Homo sapiens: one gene and its partners. The gene in region 1 interacts genetically with each later gene. Each region holds a gene or a part of one and is shown in the gene's direction. Other genes may lie near its edges. The genes, in order: LTB4R, LCK, MAP2K5 and NR5A1.

Region 1 (4,098 bases):
ACCTACACTTCCTATTAATCTTAAAACAAAGCAAAACAAAACAAAAAGATATCAGCATTGTAGCCTCCAATCTGAGCCCATTTCCCTTCTCTGGCTACCATACCTCCTTCTCCTATATGATACCATTCACTACTTTGTTCAATTATCCAGTCTAGACCTGCATCTTGAGGCCACACCCAGCCTTCTCACTCCCCACACCCCTCTTTCCTCTCTCACTGCTCCTTCCTGGTCTCTTCTCATCTGGCCCCACCTCTAAGGAGTCCTCCTGCCTTCTGGGTTGCCCTGGAAAACAGACTATCCCCCCTCCTAGTGAAGGGAGTGGGTAGGGGTTTCAGCCCCACCCTCAGGAAGATGCGTCTTCCCTGTCCTCTGCTCTGTGGTACTTCCTCTCTGGCTGATTTAGCAAACAGCACCTAGACCTGGGGCCAGGCCTTTGGCAGTGGGACAGATCCAGGGATAGGCTACACCACCCTGCCCTGACCCTGGGATTGGCATCAGCTTCCAACCAGTTCCTGCCAAAGCTTGTAAGTAAGTTTCCTGGGAGCGGCCGTGGTTGTGGTGGTGGTGGGACAGTGTGCAGCCATGAAAGAAGGTGCAAAGGAATCTCCAAAGAAAGCCTGACCAGCGTAAAAAGTTGGGAGGCTTTGTCCTTGTCACTTGTCCACTAAACTCCTCCCCTCCCTGTTATTCCTGGTTGACCCTGGGCATCTCTGGGGACAGTAGGCAGGTGATTGGGAAAGTTAATGGGATTGAGGGGCTGAGGGCCTGGCAGGGGGCAAAAAGACTGGCCTTTCAAGGGGTGCAGCATTGGTAGGAACTCTGTTTGGTTCTGGGCTTTAGGGTCTCCTAAGGGGAGGAGACTGAAAAGGTCTGGAAATGCTGCTGCTGCTGTGGTCACTGTATATTTTGCAATTGGGTCTGTGGACAGGAAGGGGCCGCATGACCCAGTTAGGAAACTAGTCTTTGTACTCAACCAGATCCCTTTAAGTTGTCAGTCTGCAGCGATGGGGGCAGTATATTTCAGGGGGACCTCTGATGCTGCTGACCCTGGAGATAGACTAGAGTTCTCAGCCTAGGTGTGTCCATGGCGTCAGGAAACCCTTGGTCCTCTACTCTCATGCGTGTGTCCGCCCTCACTCTCCAGGTCCTCCCGACGGCCATGAACACTACATCTTCTGCAGCACCCCCCTCACTAGGTGTAGAGTTCATCTCTCTGCTGGCTATCATCCTGCTGTCAGTGGCGCTGGCTGTGGGGCTTCCCGGCAACAGCTTTGTGGTGTGGAGTATCCTGAAAAGGATGCAGAAGCGCTCTGTCACTGCCCTGATGGTGCTGAACCTGGCCCTGGCCGACCTGGCCGTATTGCTCACTGCTCCCTTTTTCCTTCACTTCCTGGCCCAAGGCACCTGGAGTTTTGGACTGGCTGGTTGCCGCCTGTGTCACTATGTCTGCGGAGTCAGCATGTACGCCAGCGTCCTGCTTATCACGGCCATGAGTCTAGACCGCTCACTGGCGGTGGCCCGCCCCTTTGTGTCCCAGAAGCTACGCACCAAGGCGATGGCCCGGCGGGTGCTGGCAGGCATCTGGGTGTTGTCCTTTCTGCTGGCCACACCCGTCCTCGCGTACCGCACAGTAGTGCCCTGGAAAACGAACATGAGCCTGTGCTTCCCGCGGTACCCCAGCGAAGGGCACCGGGCCTTCCATCTAATCTTCGAGGCTGTCACGGGCTTCCTGCTGCCCTTCCTGGCTGTGGTGGCCAGCTACTCGGACATAGGGCGTCGGCTACAGGCCCGGCGCTTCCGCCGCAGCCGCCGCACCGGCCGCCTGGTGGTGCTCATCATCCTGACCTTCGCCGCCTTCTGGCTGCCCTACCACGTGGTGAACCTGGCTGAGGCGGGCCGCGCGCTGGCCGGCCAGGCCGCCGGGTTAGGGCTCGTGGGGAAGCGGCTGAGCCTGGCCCGCAACGTGCTCATCGCACTCGCCTTCCTGAGCAGCAGCGTGAACCCCGTGCTGTACGCGTGCGCCGGCGGCGGCCTGCTGCGCTCGGCGGGCGTGGGCTTCGTCGCCAAGCTGCTGGAGGGCACGGGCTCCGAGGCGTCCAGCACGCGCCGCGGGGGCAGCCTGGGCCAGACCGCTAGGAGCGGCCCCGCCGCTCTGGAGCCCGGCCCTTCCGAGAGCCTCACTGCCTCCAGCCCTCTCAAGTTAAACGAACTGAACTAGGCCTGGTGGAAGGAGGCGCACTTTCCTCCTGGCAGAATGCTAGCTCTGAGCCAGTTCAGTACCTGGAGGAGGAGCAGGGGCGTGGAGGGCGTGGAGGGCGTGGGAGCGTGGGAGGCGGGAGTGGAGTGGAAGAAGAGGGAGAGGTGGAGCAAAGTGAGGGCCGAGTGAGAGCGTGCTCCAGCCTGGCTCCCACAGGCAGCTTTAACCATTAAAACTGAAGTCTGAAATTTGGTCAACCTTGTGAGTGGGGTACATGTGCTGTGGGTATCGGGGTGCTCGTGGGCGCCCTGGTGGGGCCCCTCTCGGTAGTTGAGAGTCACGTCCTTTAGTTCCCCATGATTTACAATTTTGGAAGGGACACAAAGAAACATAGACTTCCCCCATCCCAGATGATTCCGAGTACATAGTCTGCAGATAATACTTAGCAAAACGCAGTCTACAGACTCCTAAAGCAGCTTGTCTAGGAAGACCACCCATGTGGGCTTATCACTCCAGGTTCTGTGACCCGGGACCTTCTGAGAAAACAGCACTGCTGTGAAATATCTTCCTTGAAGCCTGTGATAAGTCTCCTTGTTAGAATGACTCCAACTTCCTGCCAATAATCTTTGTCCTCTCCATAGGAGATGTTCTAGGGGATGCCTTCCTTCCCTCCATTTCACAAAGAGGCCAGACTTGAGGACTAAGTCATTAGATCTTATCCCTTAGAATTTTGCATATCAGCATCTGCTAACCTCCACAACACACCCTGGCACAGGGTGGGGCTGAGGGCCCCAGGAAACAAAGATTCCCAAAAGTGAGAGGGATGAGTCATTATTTCCTAGAGATGACTGTTGTTTTAGAGAACCTTGGTCCAACTCTGTTCTGACAAGGTTTTAGGAAGATGGCAACAACAGTGGCAGCAGTGTACTTTTTGGATCTTTCTCATAAAAAAACAAAAGAGCAAGTAAGAGAGGGAAACCAAATATCCACATGCAACATCCGCAACAAATCTAGTATGTCAAGGTTTGACATACTCCCATGGACCCCAAAGTATGAGCCAGTGAGAATGAGTCATCAATATCTCAAGACCCATATACCAGCATCTGTGCAGAAGGATGCAGAAGGAAGCAAAGGGATGTTGGATGGACCTAAGAAGAGGAGATCCCCAAGCTGTCTACAGATCCTTACTGGAAGGTATGGTGCACCAATTTGAGAACAGCAGCTGAAACTGGGAGGGACCTAACGGAGTATTTCCCAGTCCTCTCGCCCATTCTGTATGGTGAGCACATAATAGGTACTTATTTAGTGTTTGTCGAATTAATAAAGTTCAAATGACATTTCCCTGGAGATTCTTCCGGTATTTTTGAGTAGGGGGCAGGAAAGGGCAAATTTTTGTTTTGAGTCATGTGGCTAAATTCTTTATGCTTCCAAGGTGTACAAAATACTATAATCAAGTTGGCAGAGAGGCTGAGGGAGTTCTCTTCCTGAGCTTGTGAAAAAAATCACTCCCTTTCAAAATGCTTAGTCTCACATGCATGCATGTGTGCAGGCATGTGCACACACATTCACACACACACTCGCACTAAAATTGGCCTGGGAAGAAGAAGAATTCCCACTGAAGGGCAATGAGAAGGTGATCCCCAGCTATATCAGCAGCTTCAGACATCAATGGGCTCCAGACACCCCAGAGTCTCTTTATTGAGGTTCTTAGAAGGCGAGTGCAATCTCAGCCTAGGGTAGCTGAAGGAGGTCCAGTTCGTGTCAAGTCTGTGTTCAGGAAGTAGGTGCAGAGCTGCCCTTTGCCTTTCACCTTGATGACACCCCGGCTGTAGCAGGTGTAGCCCAGGGACTGTAGGGCCCATGCTGTCTCCTCAGTCACCTACAATTGGAGGGGGGCGAGG
Region 2 (3,563 bases), on another chromosome or scaffold:
CCTGTAATCCCAGCACTTTGGGAGGCCAAAGCAGGTGGATCACCTGAGGTCAGGAGTTCGAAACCAGCCTGGCCATCATGGTGAATCCCCATCTCCACTAAAAATACAAAAAATTAGCCAGGCATGGTGGTGCATGTCTGTAAACCTCCACCTCCCAGGTTCCAGTGATTCTCCTGCCTTAGCCTCCCCAGTAACTGGGATTACAGGCGTGTGCCACCATGTCTGGCTAAGTTTTGTGGGGTTTTTTTGGTTTGTTTGTTTTTTGTTTTTTTGAGACAGAGTTTTACTCTTGTTGCCCAGGATGGAGTGCAGTGGTGCGAGCTTGGCTCACTGCAACCTCCGTCTCCCTGGTTCAAGTGATTCTGCTGCCTCAGCCTCCCGAGTAGCTGGGATTACAGGCATGGACCACCACGCCCGGCTAATTTTGTGTTTTTAGTAGAGATGGGGTTTCTCCATGTTGGTCAGGCTGATCTTGAACTCCCGATCTCAGGTGATCCGCCTGCCTCAGCCTCCCAAAGTGCTGGGATTACAGGCATGAGCCACCTCGCCCGGCTGTTTTTGTTTCTAATTACAAAATTAGCACATTGCTGTTTTAAAAACACTCAAACAGGCCAGGCACAGTGGCTCGCACCTGTAATCCTAGCACTTTGGGGGGCCGTGATGGGAGGATCACATGGGCCCAGGAGTTTGAGACCTGCCTGGGCAACATAGGCAGACCCCATCTCTATTTAATTATTTAAAAAAAAAATAAAATTTAAAACTCAAACAGTAAGAGGCATATAAAGAAATACAAGAAATGCAGCCTCCTCCAATCCCACTTCTGGGATATGCCCATCGTGAAAAATTTGGTGTGTGTCCTTCCAGATTTTCCCATGTATGGCTGCTGAAAAACATGGAGGTTAAGTCTAGTCTCTGCAGGCTGGCAGACCGGGACTCACTTCACAACTCCACTGCTCATTTGTTTGTTATGAGGCCTCAGACAAATCATTTTACCTGGTTTGGGCCTCAGTCTTTGCATCTGTAAAATGGGGATAATAATAGCACTTCATAGGATTATTATGAGAATTACATGAAATAATGCAAATAAAGGCTTAGCACAGAGCTTATTTAAAAGAATCCCCTGTATACATATGTCAATGCAAATAGGCATATACTCTGCATTCTGTTCTGCAACTTGCTTGCCATGGTGTATGCGGGATGTCTTTCCGTGTCAATACATGTCAATACAAAATACCTCATCCTTTTAACTGTTTCACTAAACGTTAGCTTGGTAAATGGTTAACGGTGGTGATTTTGAAATGTTACTTCCTGGCAAGTGTTGCTGTCATGTGCGGCCATGTTGTCGGCAGTCACAGATATTATTGATCAGTGAGCTAACTACAAGCCTTATAGCCTCCTGTGAAAATGAAGTGACCCACCAGAGGGGCACCCACCTCTGTCACAGAGGGCAGGGCCAAATGCATGGGACGCTCTCTGTCTGCTTACTTCTGCATCCTCAGCTCTAGGTCAGAATCTGGCACATAGGAGGTACCCATTAAATTTATTTTTTTTTTTTTTTTTTTTGAGACAGTGTCTCAGTCTGTTGCCCCGGCTGGGGCACATGGTGTGATCATAGCTCACTGTAACTTCACACACCTGGGCTTGAGTGGTTCTCCCACCTCAGCTTCCTGAGTAGCCTAGGACTACAGATGTGTACCACCATGCCCAGCTAATTATAAAAAAATTCTTGGCCAGGCACAGTGGCTCATGCCTATAATCCCAATACTTTGGGAGGCTGAGGCAGGAAGATCTCTTGAGACTAGGCATTCAAGACTAGCCTGGGCAACATAGCAACACCCCGTCTCTATTAAAACATAATAATAACAATACAATTTATTTATTTATTTATTTAGTTATTTATAGATGGAGTCTTGCTCTGTCACCCAGGCTGGAGTGCAGTGGCACTATCTCAGCTCACTGCAACCTCTGTCTCCGGGTTCAAGCAATTCTCCTGCCTCAGCTTCCCAAGTAGCTGGGACTATAGGCACATGCCACCAAGCCCGGCTAACTTTTGTATTTTTAGTAGAAATGGGGTTTCTACTAAACTCCCAACACTTTGGGAGGGTGAGGTGGGTGCATCATCTGAGGTCAGGAGTTTGAAACCAGCCTGGCCAACATGGTGAAACCCTGTCTCTACTAAAAATACAACAAATTAGCCAGGCGTGGTGGCAGGCGCCTGTAATCCCAGTTACTTGGGAGGCTGAGACAGGAGAATTGCTTGAACTCGGGAAGTGGAGGTTGCAGTGAACCGAGATCGTGCCATTGCACTCCAGCCTGGGCAACAAGAGCAAAACTCTGTCTTAAAAAAAAAAAGTGTGTGGAGATAAGATCTCACTATTTTGCCCAAGCTGCACTCACACTATGTATGGTCTCAAGCAATCGTCCTACCTCACCCATTACATTTTTGTCAATAGGCCAGCTCCTTTAATCCACAAGCAGCAGCCTAAGCCCAAAGTTCTCTCTTGCAGTGTGGCATTTCCTAAAATATGACCTGTACACCACTCAGGTGTGTAAGTGATTTTAGGGGATAATGGATGACCATTTACGAATGTTAATTTATGTGTTTATTTTAGTGTGCGCTGTTGTTTCACTTCTATTTATGTCTCATGATTCTGGTTTTCCATTTATGGTAGTAAAGTTTCCATTTTAGGTACATATATCAAACGTGAAAAGGTAGCCCGTGGAAGTGCCAAAAATCATGAAGGAAAATGAAAATGATCAATCATTTTAGCCTGAAAGATGTTTAAGGCCAGTGTCTATGTAGCAAGCACTATGTTAAGCATTTTATTATATGAGATCATCTATATATCACGTATAATGCTCACCACAGCCAGCCTTAGATGCAAGTCTTATTTTTGTCATCATTTTGCTGATGAAGGAACTGAGGGAAGTGCAGAGGTTTAGTAAGCTGCCCAACAACCTTCTGCCAGTAAGTCTTGTTTTTTTTTTTTTTGTTTTTTTTGTTTTTTTGAGACAAGGTCTTGCTCTGTCGCCTAGGCTGGAGCGTAGTGGCCCAATCTTGGCTAACTGTAGCCTTGACCTCCCCAATCTCAGGTGATCCTCTCACCTCAGCCTCCCAAGTAGCTGGGACCACAAGCATGGGACACAAAGTCCGGCTAATTTTTGTATTTTTTTTGTACCGACGGGGTTTTGCCATGTTGCCCAGGCTGGTCTCAAACTCCTGGGCTCACGTATCTGTCTGCCCACCTTAGCCTCCCAAAGTGCTGGGATTATAGGTGTGAACCACCACGCCTGGTGCCCTTCTGCCAGCAAGTGATTGGGAGAACCTGGATTGAATTTGGGTTGCCATGGCATGGACATGGTGAACTGAGCTTCCAGAGCTGCCAGACTCCCAGAAACGTTTATAAAGCAGTGTGGATTGCCAAGCTGTAAGTAAGGCTCCATCCTAATAAAACTGTCCATGATACAAAAAGCACACCAAAGTACCCAAGGGAGCGGACTCAGTAAAAGGGATTATCAGGTATATTCACGTTACTGGTTGGGGGACTTCTACTAAAATACCA
Region 3 (3,563 bases), on another chromosome or scaffold:
ATATGTATATACCAGCAATTTACAAAAGTACTGTGAATTAAACAACCCATAAGTGTCTGTTCCAGTATTCATACATTACTGAGTGATCTCTTTCTATAATCTCTTTGCAGTATTATTCCACAGTAATGGAACAGCAAGTAAATGGACAGTTAATAGAGCCTCTGCAGATATTTCCAAGAGGTAATGTTGAGCAAATTCTAATCAACAATGATTATTTCAGTAAACTGTTTCATCAACAGTTATGTTTCCAAAGGTTTAAATGCACATAACATGATGTTTAGCTCTTAATTCGAAAAACAAAAGAAGTATTCATTATCGTGGGGATTGCAGGCTATATTATAGTTATGGCAGATAAAATATCTAATTTACTAGAGTAAATTAAACTAACTAGATTGTTTTTTGTTTTTGAAGTACATACTTACATTAGCTTAAAGAACTCTTTTGGGGGTCCACATGGTTTCTAAAGCAAGGCAAATGAATGACTTTAATTCTGGATATTTATAAATTGTGGCTCATGATGGTGGCCAAAGCTGCTATTGAGGAGAAAGCTTTCAGTTAGCACAGAAGCGAAGATTTACTGAGGTGTTAGGAGAGAAATTTTGGTGGAATGTTTGGTATCTGGTTTTTTGAGGAGGTATTTTCTAAATAATTGAAATTCTTCATAAATGGAAATTTGATTATCTCCAAAAATATGAGCTGATGAGAGTAAGTTTCAGTGAATCACTTGGTCAGATAATTTTCTTTTTCCCTTTTAGGTTTGGCAGTACTATCCTTGTATCAGATATGATTGTTCAACCGTGTATAAATGTTCCCTCAAAATTTGAATAATGGTGAACAAGAACAGTTTAATTATATAAACCATTAAGTCTTTCACCCGTTATACATTGCCCCACTTGGAATCCATGTTTTCTAACTAATGGAACAGATAAGGAAATTCTCTAAGTAACCCTTCTAGAAATAACTTAATTGAAATAATTAAAAGTTAAACTTACCTTCGTTAACTGATACTGTACAAATAATCATGGTATGAGTTTTCCAATTAAACATTCTAGACTTTCATTACCTGTAACTCTCTGAAGTTTGAATGGCTCAATTAACCAGTAGGCTCCTATTTGCACTGATAAAGTCTCCAAAGGCAGCTGTCTTGGCCAACCCACAAGAAGATCTGGGTTCAAGAATAATACTGCTCTTCCAGCATATGTGTGGGCAGCAGAATCAGGAGTGCTTAGTATATTACTAGTAACTTATTGAAGTGCTAAGTAAGTACAGTTGGGCTATTTAAGGCCAGTGATAGTCCAAAACAAGGATTGTGATTAATCCACTTCTGTTGTACTTGAAGATTAAGCACCAAAACAGAAAAAAAGAAATGTTGCTATTTCTGTTTATTAGTCCAATGATTAGGATGTAGATGATTTCTTTTTTTTTTTTTTTTTTTTCGAGACAGAGTCTCGCTCTGCCACCAGGCTGGAGTGCAGTGGTGCAATCTCAGCTCACCGCAACCTCTGACTCCCTGGTTCAAGTGATTCTCCTGCCTCAGCCTCCTGAGTAGCTGGGATTACAGGCTCGTGTCACCACACCCAGCTAATTTTTGTATTTTTAGCAGAGACAGGGTTTTACCATGTTGGCCAGGATGGTCTTGATCTCCTGACCTCATGATCCACTCCCCTCGGCCTCCCAAAGTGCTGGGATTACAGGCGTGAGCCACCACGCCCAGCCAGGAGGCAGATTATTTCTTAATGTTTGCAGTGACTGGAGAATTTGGGCAAGTTTCAAAATTCTTTCTTCACAAGGAGTAGTATTTTACAAACTGAAAATTTCCATTAATTTCTCTATTGACATTATAGCTCTGCCATAGAAAACCCTAATTGCAGTATCCTGGAGAAATATACTTCCAGGCAGGGCACAGTGGTTCATGCCTGTAATCTCAGCACTTTGGGAAGCTGAGGCAGGTGGATTGCTTGAGCTCAAGAGTTTGAGACCAGCTTGGGCAACATGTCAAAACCCTGTCTCTACCAAAAAAATACAAAAATTAGCCGGGCGTGGTGCACACTCCTGTTGTCCCAGCTACTTGGTGGGCTGAGGTGGGAGGATGGCTTGAGCCCAAGAGGTTGAGGCTACAGTGAGCCATGTTTGTGCCACTGTACTCCAGCCTGAGTGACAGAGCAATACATTGTCTCAAAACACACACACACACACACACACACACACACACTTCCAATGTTGTGGGTCTTCATTTGTCTCTAAAAAATTTTTTTTAGTTATCTTCATCCAAATTCTTTCAAGTTTTGTTTGTTTTCTTTCCTTTTGTGAGCAGTCCTGTCATTCTCACTGTTCATCGCATTATGCTTCTTCCCATGATAATCACAACCATTTTTAGATGTCTGCTCTGTTAAGGCATTAATATTGCTTTACGCATCATCATCTGTAATCCTCCTGATAGTTCTGCCTATTAGGTATTACTGTTTCCAATTTATAGATGAGAATATTGAGATTCAGAGAGGTTAAGTAACTTCAGAGTCACACAGCTTATAAGTGCTTACTATGCCCTTTGAGTAAGAATTTCATTTAAATTATAATATGATTAAAATGGAAAGGCATATATATTAAAATATAATTAGAGTGTGCATGGGAGTAGTTTGGAGGGCTTGTTTTGGAGTGGAGAGGAGTATGTTATGGGGAGAGGATACTTAAAGGAGGAAATTATATGAGATGTCATTGTCATATGTAGTCTTAGCATAAAACCCACTAGGCTGCAATAAATTGTTAAACATAGTCTTTCTAAGCCAAATTTAAATATTTCAGAATATGAGACTGTCTTTTTATTTCTGTGTTTTTTTAATATGCTATGGTGTAATTGTTTCTAGTTTTTGGTAGTCTTTTGCTTTTTGCTACCTGTCTACATCGAATGTACATTTTATCATATGTAGATAAGTGAAATTATGCAAATTTACATAATCGACATGTAGACATACTGGGTATATTTCCTGTGTCTACCTAGTTGGTTAGAGGCCCTCAGATCTTAAATTTTATGGTTAGGCCCCATGTTAAAAAGAATCTTTAGACTGAACAAGTAGGAAGGATAGGAGAAAATGATTGTTTCCTTATTTATTTATTTATTTATTTATTTTGGAGACAGAGTCTCACTCTATCACCCAGGCTGGAGTGCAGTGTGTGCTCACTGCAGCCTTTATGTCCCCAGGCTGGAGCAGTTCTCTCGCCTCAGCTCCTGAGTAGCTGGGGCTACAGGCATGTGCCACCACGCTGGGCATTTTTTTTTAATTTTTTAATAGCGACAAGGTATCACAGTGTTGCCCAGGCTGGTGTCAAACTCCTGAGCTCAAGCAATCCTCCCACCACCACTTCTCCAAGTGCTGGGATGAAAGGCATGAGCCACCATGCCTGGCCATAATTCTGATGTAATAACATGTTCTCCTCATTCCAAGTAGCACAGTTGCCTTGGATAGTAACTCCCAGGTCATGGCTAAGTCCTCTACATTGTTAAAAGATATGTTAAATATTAATAAGTGTGAACATTGACTAGCTTTATAGTAATTCCTGACCCG
Region 4 (4,102 bases), on another chromosome or scaffold:
GTGGCCTTCCATGAAAAAATATATATAGGGAGAGTTGGCTTCACTTCACTTATCCAGAAAAGTCCCTCTTGTTCCAGATAAGTGAGGTGTTGGGTGTGATTTATTTATTTCCTCCAATGAAGGGATATGTGGGAGGAGGGGTGGTTCTCAACAGTGACTGCCCCATAGTCACCCTGTGCCCCTCCCTGCTCTCCCAAGATGAAAGGCACGGAGGTAAATCCTCTGAGGACAGAGACTTTTCTTCTCTTTCCTATGGGATCCCTGGTGCCTGGAACAGTGCCTGACCCCTAAGTGTGCGCTCAGTAAATGTGAGACAAACAGAGGAACACACAAAAGATCCAGTCACCGTGGGAGCGGCACAACACCCTGCAACCCGGGCCCTACAGGAACAGGATATTTCAGAGCCCATCTGGGCCCAGAGATTGGATGGGGACGTCCCAGGTTGTCTAGGGAGGCCTAGCCTTCTAGATAAGGGCCCCTTCCTGCTACCCTGTCCTATCCTGGACTAGCTTCATACTTGGTTCAACCTGGGGCCACTATAGCCACCACTTGGCCTCAGAGGCAGTCTCAGCCCAGCCTCAGTTTTTCCAGCCATCGACTGGGAACATCAGCAGCCCACAGCAGATGAGGACATTCAGAGGCCACCGTGGCATGCACGCACCAGGTGTCCAGGCCGCTCACCTGCTCCCCTTCCGGCCCCCCTCTTCTTCCACCTGATGGAAGAGGAAAAAGAGGTGGAAGCAGCAGGCCGCCTAGTCAAGTCGCCATGGCCTTGCCTCCGCACTGGCCTGTCCTGACTCTACTCCAATGTCCGGGCTGGGCCAGACCATGCCAGGCCAGGCCCCAGGGAGGTAGCCATTCACAAGGAGAGAGGAGCAGGCGGCAGGCCGGGTGGGGGAGCAGCCCATAAATCAAGCCCCACTCCCACCCGGTTTCTAACAAGCGGGGCTGCCTACCCGCCTCTGTGGGGTCCCTGCCTCTGGGCTCCCACAGCGGGCCTGGAACAGCCAGCTGGCCAAGGCCTCTGCAGTGCCTTGGCCTCCGCCCCCACCCTCAGCCCCCAGATAGATAGGGGTATTTTTTTTCTTTTAGGAGAAGAAGAAAAAATAGACGTAAATGAAGAGAAACACCAACAAAGAAGGCGAGAGGCCTGCAGAGTCACGTGGGGGCAGAGACCAATTGGGCCTCCGGTGGCCCCCCCACCAGGGCGGGGAGGAGGAGGAGGACGGACGGACAGGGCCAGCCTGCTGTCCGGCTGCCGCCCGCCGTGGTGTGAGGGGGTTTCTGCGCACCCACAGTCGCCACCGTCCCACCTGGGCTGCCGGAGCCTCCCCCTGGACCCCTGGTGCCCACTGCCACCCTCATCCGGTGTGAGAGCGCTGCTTCCGCTTCGTAAGTGAGGGCCTTGGCCCAGGCCTCTAATGGCCAGCCTCCTTCTGCAGTGCCTCCCTGCAGCCTGGGCCGGCCACTGCCTGCTCCACTTAGTGACCGGTGCCCCCTGCTCTGGGCAGGGAAGGTGCCAGGGGTCTCCCAGACTCACCCTCCCACCATGCTACCCCCTCTTCTTCCCTGGGCTGCCGATGGGAGGAGCCAGGCCTGTGACCACAAGCCCCATGGAGGTCCGCTGGTGTCCCGCTGTCTCTGGCCAGGCATCCACCAGGCTGTGTGGGTCTGAGCCTAGAGGTCTGTGAGTGTGTCTGGAGGGCTCTGGGCCTGTCTTGGGGCTCTGTCCCCCACCTGAGTTTCTGTGTTGTCTCTGTGGCTCTCTCTGAGTCTTGCTGTGTATCCGTGTGTCTGTCTCCGGCATCCATCTGTCAGCCTGGGTTCTGCGGCCGGGCCAGGTCTAGGCTTCCCTCCCTGGGTGGGTGGATGAGGGGCTGGAACTCCCCAGGCGGTGGGCTGGAACCTGGAACCTGTGGGGGTGGGTGCCTCGGAGCCTGGAGTGCAGAGGAGCCATGGGCTTCCAGCCGGTGAGAGTAGAAACCCTTGGGGAGAGGGGATTGGAGATAGAGGGAGAAGGGCCTGAGCCCAGCCCCCACCCAACCCCGGCGGCTGGGGCCTGTGTGTCCAGCTCCAGGTTTCCAGGAGACCTCGGGTGAGCTCTACCTTAGAACAGCCAACTGGGGCACCCCAGCCCATCATCCACCAACCCCCTTCCCTCCTGCAGTCACTGTCTGAGGGCTCCATTGTGGTGGGGAGCTGTTCAGAGGCGGCAGTGACCCCCACCTCCAGCTCGGGCAGATGCTCTTGTTTCTCAGGGGTTTGGGGGTGCGGGGGGTACGATTAACAGGGTCTCTGGCTCTTTCTTCCCTCCTCATCCAAGATTCTTGCATGGAAACCGCAGTACCCCATCTGTAAAGCCAACATGTTCCACTTTATGCTCGGAGAAAACTGAGGCTCTCGTTTCAGAGAGGAGAAGTGACTTGCCCGAGCTTGCACAGCTAGTCTGCGGGTTCTGCTCCTTCTGTGGGTGAGCCAGCTGAGTGCGGTCTGCGCGGGGGGTTCTCTGGCCACAACTTGCAGGCCCCAGGCCCAGCTCCAACCGAAGCCCGAGGCCTCCAGGCGGGCGGGAGCCCAGATGGAGCCTTTTGGTGGGTTGCGCCGCTGTCAATGCAAAATTGCGGTATTTTCCTGCTTGAAGATCGCAGCTTTTTGGCCTCATGGTCCCCAAACTCTCTCTGACCCCAGGTGCCAGCGGGGGCGGAGGCAGGATGCAAGCAGGCCCCTTCCTTTCGGGTCCGTTTCTCCAGCTGAAAAACAGTGGCCCCGCGGATGGTCCCTAGCCCAGAGCAACTGCTTGGCCCATAGGCCCGGGAACCCCTTTGTCCCCAAGACCGCCCAGCGCTTTCTTCCTCGCCCCACCCCCCCGTGAGAGCTCCGAGGGGAGCAGCGGGGCCCTGCCTCCGGGCTCCTCTCCCAGCTCCTGCGCCCGTAGAGGCTTCGGGTCCCCCCAGGCCTCGGACATTTGTAAAATGGGATTTCCACGAGTCCCATTTCCAGCCCAGCGACCTGAGGCTAGCGAGCAGAAGGGGTTCGCCCCAGATCTCCCCAGAGGGGCGCCACTGAGCGCTTCCGCCAGGCCACACGCGTGCTTTGCCCCTACTGCTTGGGTTCATCCTCACGACCCACCCTTAGCGAGGAAGAGCGGTCATCTACCCACTTCACAGATGCGGCAACTGAAGACCCGAGACGGGGAGAGAGCTGCTACAGGCTCGAGTGAGGAGATGTGGTGGGCCCCATGGGAGAATCTGGCTTCCACCCGTGAATCCGAGCCTCGGCCACGGTCGCCACTCGCCCTTACCCACTTCCACGCTGTAGTGCGACCAGCCACCCGCGTGGCATTCGCCACGACCCAGCTGGGTTCACAGACAGGAGCTGCCTCCTCCCACTGCAGGCGGGTGACCCAAGGCCCCCACTGCCCTATACCTGCCCAGATCGCGGGGCACTCGGGCTCCGCAGCTCTCTGGCCGCGCTCGGGGTCCGGGGAGCCGGGCTGCGGCTGGGGGGCCTGGAGGATGAGGGCGAAGACTCGAGCTGGACTGCGGAGAGGGTGCCGGCGCGGGCCGGGCTTGGGGGGAGGACACGACCGGGCCTCCGCCCCCGGATACCGCACGCGCCGATATAGAGGGGCCGGCCCCCGGCCCCGGCGCGGCGGGTTGGCGCAGGGCGGGGTGGCGGCTGAGGGGCCCGGGTCCCAGGTGCGCCTCGGAGCGGCCCCGGCGGCGGTGCGGGGGGGAACAGGGAGGCAGGATGGGGGGCGGGGAGGCGGGAGGGGGGAGCCGAGGCCCCCGCGCCGCCAGCCCCGCGCCCCCGCCTCCCCGTCCCCGGCCCGAGCGGCCGTCATCGCGGGCGGGCGGCGCTGCGCCCGGGTGCGGCTCCTCGCCGGCGGCGGCGGCGCGGCCGAGAGGTGCGGGCTCCGCGCGGGCGGGACGCGGGGCGCTGCTCGCAGGAGCGACCAGGTGGGCGCCGGGCCGACCGCAGCCGCCGTCGCGCCCCCTCTCGCGTCCCGGGCCCTGGCTCTTCGCGCTTCCCTCCTCCGGACTTCGCCTCTCCGCCCGAGGTCGCTCCCTCGCCTCGGGCTCGGCTTCCCGGAGCCCGCCGA

What was found.
Region 2: changes in LTB4R (region 1) and LCK together harm fitness more than expected from each alone (negative genetic interaction), as found in Homo sapiens cells (one large-scale study listed by BioGRID).
Region 3: changes in LTB4R (region 1) and MAP2K5 together harm fitness less than expected from each alone (positive genetic interaction), as found in Homo sapiens cells (one large-scale study listed by BioGRID).
Region 4: changes in LTB4R (region 1) and NR5A1 together harm fitness less than expected from each alone (positive genetic interaction), as found in Homo sapiens cells (one large-scale study listed by BioGRID).

What each region holds. Positions count from the first base shown.
Region 1 is NC_000014.9:24,314,493-24,318,590, forward strand, and holds the end of LTB4R (leukotriene B4 receptor 1), read left to right. Parts: exon of another isoform or gene 1-528; intron 529-1,144; 5' UTR 1,145-1,159; coding exon 1,160-2,218; 3' UTR 2,219-3,544; downstream 3,545-4,098. Other genes in the region: ADCY4 (adenylate cyclase type 4), read right to left, coding at 3,924-4,076. UniProt on the Homo sapiens protein: Receptor for extracellular ATP > UTP and ADP. The activity of this receptor is mediated by G proteins which activate a phosphatidylinositol-calcium second messenger system.
Region 2 is NC_000001.11:32,254,258-32,257,820, forward strand, and holds part of LCK (tyrosine-protein kinase Lck), read left to right. Parts: intron 1-3,563. UniProt on the Homo sapiens protein: Non-receptor tyrosine-protein kinase that plays an essential role in the selection and maturation of developing T-cells in the thymus and in the function of mature T-cells. Plays a key role in T-cell antigen receptor (TCR)-linked signal transduction pathways.
Region 3 is NC_000015.10:67,580,644-67,584,206, forward strand, and holds part of MAP2K5 (dual specificity mitogen-activated protein kinase kinase 5), read left to right. Parts: intron 1-110; coding exon 111-180; intron 181-3,563. UniProt on the Homo sapiens protein: Acts as a scaffold for the formation of a ternary MAP3K2/MAP3K3-MAP3K5-MAPK7 signaling complex.
Region 4 is NC_000009.12:124,504,539-124,508,640, reverse strand, and holds the start of NR5A1 (steroidogenic factor 1), read left to right. Parts: upstream 1-1,241; 5' UTR 1,242-1,392; intron 1,393-4,102. UniProt on the Homo sapiens protein: Transcriptional activator. Essential for sexual differentiation and formation of the primary steroidogenic tissues. Binds to the Ad4 site found in the promoter region of steroidogenic P450 genes such as CYP11A, CYP11B and CYP21B.